Homo sapiens: one gene and its partners. The protein of the gene in region 2 interacts with the protein of the main gene of each other region in a biochemical or structural test. Each region holds a gene or a part of one and is shown on either strand. Other genes may lie near its edges. The genes, in order: SKP2, PAX8 and NFIX.

What was found.
Region 1: the proteins of PAX8 (region 2) and SKP2 form a complex in vitro, tested with the Homo sapiens proteins (one study listed by BioGRID).
Region 3: the proteins of PAX8 (region 2) and NFIX form a complex in vitro, tested with the Homo sapiens proteins (one study listed by BioGRID).

What each region holds. Positions count from the first base shown.
Region 1 is NC_000005.10:36,165,481-36,169,130, reverse strand, and holds part of SKP2 (S-phase kinase-associated protein 2), read right to left. Parts: intron 2,613-3,650; coding exon 2,469-2,612; intron 819-2,468; coding exon 684-818; intron 1-683. UniProt on the Homo sapiens protein: Substrate recognition component of a SCF (SKP1-CUL1-F-box protein) E3 ubiquitin-protein ligase complex which mediates the ubiquitination and subsequent proteasomal degradation of target proteins involved in cell cycle progression, signal transduction and transcription.
Region 2 is NC_000002.12:113,240,781-113,244,430, forward strand, and holds part of PAX8 (paired box protein Pax-8), read right to left. Parts: coding exon 3,647-3,650; intron 1,999-3,646; coding exon 1,910-1,998; intron 1,351-1,909; coding exon 1,228-1,350; intron 947-1,227; coding exon 771-946; intron 63-770; exon of another isoform or gene 1-62. UniProt on the Homo sapiens protein: Transcription factor for the thyroid-specific expression of the genes exclusively expressed in the thyroid cell type, maintaining the functional differentiation of such cells.
Region 3 is NC_000019.10:13,022,937-13,026,586, reverse strand, and holds part of NFIX (nuclear factor 1 X-type), read right to left. Parts: intron 2,616-3,650; exon of another isoform or gene 2,556-2,615; coding exon of another isoform or gene 2,553-2,555; intron 2,009-2,552; exon of another isoform or gene 1,954-2,008; coding exon of another isoform or gene 1,868-1,953; intron 1,809-1,867; exon of another isoform or gene 1,591-1,808; coding exon of another isoform or gene 1,567-1,590; coding exon 1,035-1,566; intron 1-1,034.

The DNA of each region.
Region 1 (3,650 bases), on a different chromosome or scaffold from region 2:
ATTCTTCTTACAGCAAGGCGTAGGGGCCCATTACAATCTGGTCCCTGACTCTCCTCACCTTGTCACTCTCCTCCCTTAGTCCTGTGCTCCAGCAACTTCCAACTACGTAAGAGTTTAGAACCACACAGGAAGTTTTACCTAGACTGGTTGCTTTGTCTTATTACCTAGAGATCTCCTACCTAGATATCTTCAATACTCAAGAGTCACTTCCTCTAACAAGGCGGCTCCTCGTGTGTTGCCACATATTCACTGAAACATTTAATAAACACACTGCATGGTAATTATCTGTCTTGCTCATAAATAGTTTACCTTCTTGCAAGAGAAAATAGACATGTCTTGCTCAATGTTTCCTCTTGCAAGAAGGTAAACTATAGCTTAACCAGCATTCACTAACAAGGTGGGAAAAGTTTTAGAGCATTCATTTTCTTCCCAAATAATACACATGCATTGTTCATCCTTGTACTTGTATCTCTAGAACCTAGCACAGGGCCTGGCATATAGTTAGCATTCAAGCTTTTGTTGCTTCAATGAGTCCTGAAAAGTTTTGCAGAAGCTAGAGCACTGCACTAGATATTTTCTGTATCCACCTGGATATGGCTAGAAGGGCACCCCAGTTATATACAGGGAAAAAAATTCATACACATAAAATCAACTGCCTTTGTGACACTCTGCCTGCCACTCACTTGACAATGGGATCCGAAAGCCGCAGGCCTTCCAGGCTTAGATTCTGCAACTTGGAACACTGAGACAGTATGCCGTGGAGGGTGGACACTTCTATAACTGAGTTCGATAGGTCCATGTGCTGTACACGAAAAGGGCTAAACACGGAGAGAAAAAAGGAGCTCCATAGGTGGCTCTCACGGGTACATCCAATTTCAAACCAGACCCCTCTTCTCCCCAAATGAGCAGCCAATCACAAACAAGACTCTAAATACATACTTCAAGCATTAACTATAGGGTCATAAAACATATTGCTACTAGTGTATTCCCATCTTCATTCATTTTAAAATGCAAGAGGATTTTTGCCAAGTACAGATGTTGCTGCCAATATAGTCCCACTTAGAAAATAACGAGTGGGCATCACAACAATGAGCTGGATGTGGGTGACAAGGAGATTAAGACCATAACGGCTCCTGGTTTCTGGCAGGGGTGAGTGGGTGAGCAGCAATAGAACAGGGAAGGTAGCGGAAGAGAAAGTTTTAAAGGGAGACCAGGCTGGGCGCAGTGGCTCACGCCTGTAATCACAACACTTTGAAAGGCTGAGTCCAGTGGATCACGATGTCAGGATATCAAGACCAGCCTGGCCAGCATGGTGAAACCCAGTCTCTACTAAAAATACAAAAAATTAGTTGGGCGTGGTGGCGCACACCTGTAGTCCCCAGGTGCTCGAGAGGCTGAGGCAGAATTGCTTGAACCTGGCAGGCAGAGGTTGCAATGAGCCGAGATCACGCCACTGCACTCCAGCCTGGGTGACACAGCAAGACTCCGTCTCAAAAAACAAAAACAATAAAAAAAAAGGGAGGCCAAATTTGAGTTATGCTAATATTGAAGTCCTTGTAAGAAATTCAGGTACAGACGTTTTTAGGTAATTAGAAATTTGGGAATTTGAAAGGGAGGGCCAAGCTATAGATGAGGAACTGAGAGTCCTGGGCATAAATGTGGGTGTAGAGGACACAGCTTGTCCAGGGACAGCATTTGGATTTGAAAAAGGTGGCAGCCAGGAACCGACCCTGGAGTGAACAGAGGAAATCACATATGTGAAGGAGACTGAGAAGGAACAGCCACAGGAGGAACAGGATAAAAAGCAGTGGGAGAGGCGGTCCTGACTACGGAAAGAAGGGAAAAAGTACTGGAGTCAGGAGACATGTTTTATCTTTAGCTTTGTTGTCTTCAGCTTGTTTTTCTGTTCAGTACCTAGTTATTCTACTATGTGATAGCAGTAACCTCAGTATTGCAAAATTATCAGAACAGAAAATTCTTTTTCAAAATATTCTACAAAACAAACAAAAAGAGGGCATTTTTTTCAGGTTCCAAATTTCTCCAAGACAAAAATCATAAACCCCAAGCTACAAACATGAAAAGACTCCTCACTTTTTTTTATTTATCAGAAATGGGCATTGGGGAAGTAACTGGGCACCCTTGCATCTGCCAGTGAGTGCTTTACTTGTGCCTGCCTTGTGGGACTCACAGTCCCCCTATCAGCTGAGGACTTGAGAAGACAAATGTGCCTCTTTCACCCTGGGAAGAGACTAACAGTAAACTTGAGTGAAATGGGAACAGTGTCATTGAAATCTATGCTAGGTTTTAGCACAAAGGCCCCATAGCAAAGTATGGAATTAACATCCCACACTGCACAGATAACCTACCATAGGCTTTAAGGCTGAAGAAAGAAAAAAAAAAAAAAAGCTTTGATCTGTTTCTACCTCGAAATTTAGAAATAGTCTTTTCCAGGGATTTTTCATCTTTACCTGAAATGTTCAGCCAATGGTTGGTCCATAAATGATCGTGGGCAGCGGAAGGCAATCACCCCTTGAGACAGCAACCGACCAGTCACATCCGGGTGCAGATTTTTACCTGTGAGGTCTAAGGTCTGCCATAGAGACTCATCAGACCTATAAAAGAGGAGATACTTAATTTGGCCAGTCGGTCACACTAAATGCTGGAAGCCCTCAACAACATTACTAACAGGTAGGACACTGCTGCTAAATCTCCTTGAAGCATATTCTAAAAGAACTTTTGTTTTTAAGTTGGCTATACAATTAGCTATGATATTTTTAAGGCACTAGAGAATTTTTCTTGATTTCACCAGGGATAAGCTTCCATCTTTCTCTTTCTATATACTTCCAATTTAGATGGTTCAATGTGAACATTAGCACTGCCGTGATCTAGAACCAGAGAATCATATTCCAGCATTCAAGTTGACAAATTTAAAAAATGATTGCTCAAATCAATTAATTATTATATTACTAGGCAAATAGGATCCTCTAAGAAGTTTTAAATCTATTTGACACTTTTGTCAAGCAATTATGATTACTGTAGCAACATGGAAAATTACTAAAGGAACGAAAGTTAGCATTATTTTATTATGAAATAAGGCTGTCATAGATATTCAATAGCAACAGTCATGGTTCAGCTGTGCCTTATAATATATTTGAAGCTTAAAACATACACGTGTATATGTATGTGTACATATGTGTGTGTATGAACTAATGTGAAATAAGGGAAAAATACAACGGATTATAGATGGTGTTTCTAAAACAAAAGGGATGTTCTAAAAACGTACTGAATAGCACAGTAAGAGGGTTTTAATATCCATAGTTTAATTCAATTTAAAAAAAGAAAATGTGAAATATAAGCACATGAAGGAACATTTTAAATGCTTAGGTGTACTAGAATTTTCTTTTTTAATAGTGCTTGAAATAAGTGGACCACTGGCCAGAGTTATGAAATAACTTCATCATAAAAAAATTGTCAGTGTGATTTGTGTGACAAATCTATCATTAAAAAGGTGGACTGTAGATAAGATATCCTTAAGAGAGTGGCACACTTTTGTATCTTTCTTGCCCAGACAGAAATCCATTTTGGCCTCCAAGGTATTGGTATTGACACCAGATCAGCACTGCTCTGGTTGTCTTGAATCTCATGCTTGA
Region 2 (3,650 bases):
GGGCACAATGGTAGGTGCTGGGAATAAAAACGATGTTTAACGTTTCATGAGGCTTCCCTGTCCTTAAGGAGTCCGCGTGTCTTTGTACCTGTCTGTCTGCTAGATTATTAAGTGACACTGTGAGAAGCTACTGAGAGCAGCATGTGGGACATGCAGAAGGGCAAGAGGCAGGAGAGATGATTCATGTCGGAGGGGCAGGGGAGGACTGACGGAGAGGGTGATGTTTGGCTGAGTCATGAAGGCTAGTGGTATTTTTCCATGCAGAGAAGTGGGAGGAAAGGCATTCTGTGTGGAGGGCACACAGTGTGCAAGGGCAGAGAGGTGTGAGCGAGGGTGGTGAGCTCGGGGCCATGAGTAATGCAAGAGCATGGGGTGTGCAGGATGAGTGGCCAAAGGTGGGGCTAGGAAATAGTGGCTGAGGTCATTATGTGAAGGCTTTGTGCTACTGCTTCAGAGTTGTGGAACGTGATGTTGCAATCTGGGAAAGACGCTGATGGCAAGGGATAGCATCATCAGGTTGTGCTGCCATCCCTGAAAGGCCCAGGCTCAAAGGTTTTGGGTGAAGGAAGCCAGGAGGGTTAGAAAGGGAGGAAGATGCCAGGGCATCTGGTAAAATAAAGCATGTGTCAGGCTTGGAGTTGCATAAGGCAGGTGCCCTGAGCCCATTGATGCAACTTCCAGCTGCTTTGATGGAGCACAGGCTCATTTGGAGAATAGACCTTCTCTGGCCCTTGCCCACCCTGTTCACCTCCCAGGGCCCAGCTTCTCACCTGCTCGCCTTTGGTGTGGCTGGGGGAGGCATAGGCCTCTGGGTAGTGCTGCCGCTCAAATGGGCACTCGAGCGGCTCGAGGTGGTGCTGGCTGAAGGCATCCGTGCGAAGGTGCTTTCGGGGTCCGCTGCTGCTGCTCTGTGAGTCAATGCTTAGTCGGCAGCTATCCTGATCACCTGGTACCCCCCGGGAAGGAAGAAAGCTTTTAGGGGACCTATCTATTCATGCTCTAGGCCAAAGTAGAGGACTGACTCCAAGCTGACTCACTGTGGAGGGAGAAAAAGGGCCAGCCACGTGGGCCCAGGAGCCTTGGCCAACTGAGGGACAGGACATGTGACAGTCACATGCAGAGCCCCTACAAAGTCCCATATCATAAGTGGAAGGGTTTCTGTCCCCATCAAAGCCTGAGCAAACTGCTCTCGTGCACCGCCCGCTGCCCTCCTGTCCCAGCACTCACTGTCATCCATTTTCCTCTTGTCGCTGCCAGGCTGAGCGATGCCCAGGAGCCCATTGATGGAGTAGGTGGAGCCCAGGGAATCCGACTGGGGTGACTCCGGGGGAGTTACAGCTGAGCTGGGGACTGCAGTGGGGGAGAGGGAGAGGGTCAGGGGTGGGAGTGACACCCCTCACAGCCCTGGGTGACTCTGGGGTAGTTACAGTTGAGCTGGGGACTGCAGGGGCTGGGGGAGAGGGAGAGGAGCAAGGGGTGGGACACCCCTTACAGCCCTGGGGTGACTCTGGGGGGACTGCGGTGGTGGGAAGAGGGAGAGGGTCAGGGAGTGAGAGTGACACCCCTCACAGTCCCTGCTGACACTGTGCAGGAGGCAGCAAGCCGAACCATGGACTGAGCCCTGGAGGGGCTCAGGTCCTTCCTCCAGGGGGCCTCCTGGTGGGAGGGATTCTTGGAGTTAGAGCTGTCTCAAGTGTTTGCACCTCTCCATAGTTCAGTGAATCTGCCCTGGGAACAGGCCAGACTTCGTCGCAGTGGCACAACTCAGTCTACACATGGGTTTGTGAATGGTACTGTGCACAGCTATGTCTGTGTGGGTGTGTCTGTGTGTGCCTCTGTGTATATGTGGGTATGCTGAAGGGGAGGTGTACACGAGCATGTGTGTGTATCCAGGTCTCTCAGCACTCACTCAGCGTGTGTCCGGGACTCAGGGACTTGGTGGCCACGCAGCTGTCCATAGGGAGGTTGAATGGTTGCTGCACTTTGGTCCGGATGATTCTGTGATGAAGAGAAGAAAGGCCATGAGAGAGAAGAGGAGGAAAGAGAACTCATGGCTGCCCCAGACCCAGTCGCCTTTTTGACACCCCTTTTGGGTATCTCCAAGGCACTTGAAACTCAACTGTCCACAGTCAAGTCTGTGACCCTACTCCGCATGCCTAGTCCTCCTCAGTTGTCCGCATTTCATGATTGGTACCATCAGTCACTCAAGGCCAAAACAGAGATGGGGCTTAACCTCTGCTTCCCTCTCTTTCCTATCAAACCCATCATCAAGTTCTGTGTTTTGACCTTGTGAACCTTGCCAACGTTGACCCCTCTCTGCGTCTCTCCATCAGCACCTTAGTGCATGTCATCACCAGTGTTCCAGGGTCACTCAGTGGCCCACGCCCATCCCCTCTTGGCCCTTTCTAAGTGATTCTCCCTACTGCAGCCAGAGTGGACTTTCTGAAATGCAAGTTGGCTTAAAATCTGCCAAGGGTTTCCCATTGCTTTATGACCAAAGGCAAGAAGATATAACACAGCCCCCAGCCTCTGAAAGGTCACCTCTGCTGACATCTTCAACTTCAGCCTACCTTGTGCTCCCCTGCTCTTTATCTACTGGTTTTCTTTTCTTTCTTTCTTTTTTTTTTTGAGATAGAGTCTTGCTCTTGTCGCCCAGGCTGGAGTCCAGTGGCGTGATCTCAGCTCACTGCAACCTCTGCCTCCCATGTTCAAGTGGTTTTCCTGCTTCAGTCTCCCAAGTAGCTAGGATTACAGGCACTCGCCACCACACCCAGTTAATTTTTGCATTTTTAGAAGAGATGGGGTTTCACCATGTTGGCCAGGTTGGTCTCGAACGCCTGATCTCAGGTGATCCACCTGCCTTGGCCTCCCAAAGTGCTGGGATTACAGGCATGAGCCACTGCACCTGGCCTATCTACTGGTTTTCTTTTGATCCTATTAGCCACAGGGCCTTTGCATAACTGTCTGAGCTCTTTTCACCTAGTTCTCTTATTGTTTTTTACTCAAGGGAAGACTTTCATGAACTTCATAAACCAAATAATCCTGTGCTACCTTGCATATCTTCATGTTCCTTTTCTTAGCAGGACTTACAGCTGCATTTTTACAATATTTTTTGTAGGTAGTTGATTAATATCTGTGTTCTCATTAGACTGTAAGCTCCGCAAAGATGGGCTTTGTGTGTCCCAGGGCCTAGCACAAAATGAATGAGTGAATTATGTGTGAATGAATTAATGAACAAGCGAGTGAGTAAGTAAATGATTGATTGAGGCAGTGAGTGAATCATTGAGGGACTAAACGAATGAATGCTTGAATGTGGGCTGGGTTAGGGGTCTGATGGCTTAGAAAAGGATCAATTCATGAAGATTCTTTTATTGAATGAAAGCAGATGTGGTGTTTGAGGAAGGAAACTGTAGATAGCACACTATGGCTGGGGGCCAGGGGGAGGGTGCCCCATAGCATGGGGCAAGGGAGGAGGCAGGGAGGTATGATATCTGCCTGGAGCCAGGTGTGCTCCCTGCCTGATTGTTCAGCATCAGGCCCCTTCCCGGCCTCTGCTCCACCCAAGCCAGGCCTTTCTTGTCTCTTTCCTGATTTCCCCAAAGCCCAGGGGCCCCAGCCTGACACCAGAGGCTGCTTTCTCTCTTACCTAT
Region 3 (3,650 bases), on a different chromosome or scaffold from region 2:
TAACCAGCCATCTCTGTTTCAATTTGTAAGAAAACAAAAGCGGAAAGAAATTATAAAAAGGGAAAGGGTAAGGGAAAAAAGGAACAGAGGAGGAGAACTAAACCACCCTGACCCAAAATGCAGGGTAAAACTGGAAAAGCGAAGAGAAGCAGAACTACTTGGAACACAAAAGGAAAAGGAGATTTTACAGAGTTTTTTTTTTTTTTGGTTTGTTTGTTTGCTTGTTTAAGACCTCTTCCACAGCAACGCTGCTCCCTGCCATGCCTGTGCCCCGAGAAAGCCTCTCTGCTCCCCAGTGCCAGGGCTGTGGGCATCCATCCTGAGGCCTTGCCACTTTAGCTGAAATAAGGAGAAGGGAAAGAGCTCAAGGAATCTCGTCCTTGTTTTCACTCTCTATGAAATCAAATTACTTTCATACTGACAGCCAAATCCCAGCCAAAACAGCTCCCGCCTGAGTATTTAGGCCACAGAATCTGCCCACTACTGTCTTCTCTCCTCTTTTCTGTTCATTCAGTCTCATATCCCAGGGTTTCACATGCCCCTTCTCTCCACCGGACTCCTGCCCATCCCGCTTGTACCAAACCCAGTTTTTCCTGGGACTGGAGGTGAAGCTGCAGTAAAACTAGCACCTGCCCCTCAATACTTCTTCTGACTCATTTTAATAAGAGCAATTACTGGTTTGCTGTTGTTGTTCATCTCAAACTCTCACCATCATGGATAATTCTGGGGGCATCATGTCCCCAATCCTAAGACCTGCAGCATCTTTCTGATCAGATAAGTCCTCCAAAGATGGAGATGCACAAAGTCGATACCATGGCCAGGGGGCAGAGGAGGAAGAATAGAACAGGTCGGGGGAGACAGAAGACAGGAAAAAGGAAAAGGGCCCATAGAACCGTGTTGCAGGCCCCGCAGGACGGGCATACACCAGTTAGGCCCATGGCGAGTTATCGCTTGGAAATTAGAGGAACAATAAACAGAACAAATGCCAGCAAGGAAAATAAAATGAGAGGGAAAAATGGTTGAGAACGACCTACCCGGAGTGTGGACAAAGTAAGCCAGATAAAGATCCAGTTCTTTGATTGTGACTCCAATGTGATGTGGCTGGACGCACAGGCCGGGGTTCGAGCACTGAGGCGACTTGTAGAGCCGCTCCCCATCAGTACTTTCCAGGGGGATCCCCTTAAACAAAATCACCATGACCAGGTCCAGCCGCCACACCTTGTCAGCCTGGCGCAGGCAGTCAATCCGCCGGATCTTGCCCTTCTGGTCGGGGTTGGAGAGCACGCAGCAGGGGGGCTTCTTGCCCGTGATGGTCAGCACGAAGTCCTCGCGGAACTCGGGCCGGATGTCCTTGCGCAGCTTGGCCAGCAGCCGGGATGCCCACTTCTGCTTGATCTCGGGCTTCTCGCCCAGCAGCTCGTCCTTCACCGCCCGCTCCTCGTCCTTCGACATCCGCTTTTCATGCTTCTTGAAGTACTTGCGCTTCCGCGCCTGCAGGTTGAACCAGGTGTAGGAGAAAGCGCGGACGTGAGGCAGCAGTGCCTCGATGAACGGGTGGAACTCATCCTGCAGGCGGCAAGCCGGGAGCATGCGGGGCGAGGGAGGACGGGAGGAGGGGAAGACGGGATGAGGGGGAAAGAGAGAAGGAGAAAAGCAGCGTTAGAAGGGGGGGCACAAGGAAAACCGCCTTCTCCTCCTCCTCCCTCCCCCCAACAATTTTCTCTTGCGATTGTTCTACGAAAGTGTGGTTTGAAGCCACCACCAGCTTCGCCAGCCACTTGCTCCCATCTCAGCCTCAGCAGCCAGACAGAGGCACCGGGAGCCTCTACACACACCTATTCTCTCTCTCTCTCCCTCACTCACTCACACACACGCGCACAGACAACGTTGCCGTCCACACACACACGCTGCTGGTATCCCCGCCAGGCTCTGTCGCGCCCATGACATCTCCATGTTCTATCGCAGCCGTGAACTCCTGTCAGCTCGCCCCGGCACAGTGTCCGTCTGCACAGACGCCCGTGGACGCACACGCGGGGGCGTGCGGGGCCGCCTCTGGTCCCCGACACCGGTCGATTTTTGGCCGCCCCCAAGAAGACAGAAAATGACATCCACGAGCAAGCGAGTGAGGAAACAGATCAGGCTTCCCTCTCCCCAGGCTGTTTTCATTTTCTTTTCTCCTGATCCAGTTGGAACATCCACCCCAACATTTTTTAATCAGACCTAAATCCTAAATATGTGATTTCAGCTTTGTTATCGACACCAATACTAATGTTAATCACAGTAATAATGAACAAAACACTTCTTGTTAGCACAAATAAGGTGCTTGTCTCGGCCACATTAGGGTTAAAAGCTACATGGGTCTTCTTGCGACCCCTTCCCCAGCCTCCCACAACCCCTTCACCCTTTTTCCCACTCAGTCAGGTGACAGAAGGATGGGCTCTCTCGGTTTTGTTTGGTTTTTTTTTTTTTTTTTGGTTGTTTGCTTGTTTGAAGTTTAAATAATAATTGATTTCTGTTTACAAAAATAAAACTGGAAAAAATTAAATAATTACCATTGATCTGAAGCACCCGGCAAAGCCCAACGCCCGATTCTGAGATTCTGGACTCAAAAGAGTTGTGAGTTGGGGGCGGGTGGGGGGAGGGGGGAGGAGGAGGAGCAGGGGAGGAAGGTAAATGTTTTAAAGGGGGTTATTATTGGTGTTCTGGGGAATAGGGGCCGGGCTTGGGTGGATTCTCAAACCCTTCCCCCTCCTCCCCCCCCCCATGCTCCATTGCACAGAAGGGGGAAATTAATATTTTTTTTGAAAAGGAGCAAAAAGAAAGAAAGGTCAGGGATAGCAAGCAGAGAGAGGGAGCGAGCCGGCTGCCACACACGCCAGGTAAACAAAAGCCAACAAAATTTTTTTTTCAATTTCTTCCCCTGTGCATCCTCTTCCAGTTTAAAAAAAAAAAAAAAGAAAAAAATGCAAAATTTAAAAATCAAAACCAGCCTCCCACCATCTCCCCACAACCAACAACGCACCCCACCCCACCCCCGTGCAAAACAAAAACAAAAACAAAACCCAGGAGGGAAAAAGCGGCAGCTGAAGAAAAAGGCTTTCGGCTTTGGCAGCGGCACAGGGGTGTAAACTTCGAGCTGCCTGATCGGAGGAAAAGGGGGAGCTCGCAGATTCCCGGGGAAGAGGACGAGTTCTGACCGGCTGCAGACCGTTGCTGGCAGACGCGTGCAAAAGAGAGAGAGGGAGCGAGGGAGGGAGGAAAGGAAGAAGGGGGGGAGGGAGAGATCGAGGATCGAGGGAGGACGTGGATGGGATGGGGCGTGTGTGTGAGTGTGCGCGTGTGTGTGCGCACTGGTTGGGTTTTTGGGGTGTTTTTTTTTTTTGCTCCTTTTCTCTCTCTCAAACTCCCTCTCTCTCTCTCCTTTCAGGCTCAATCCCCATCCATTTGCTTGTGCCAAGCCAGTAAAAAGGGGTGGGGGGAGAAAGAGACAGAGAGAGAGAGAGAGAGAGAGAGAGAAAGAGAGAGAAGGATCCACCTATTTGGCAAAGAGACATCCACGAGCAGCCAATGGCTGCGTCCAAGGGGAGGAGGGAACCGGGCGAGCAGGGAGGGTGGGGAGAGCCCCCGGCAGTTGGAGACCAAAAACAATT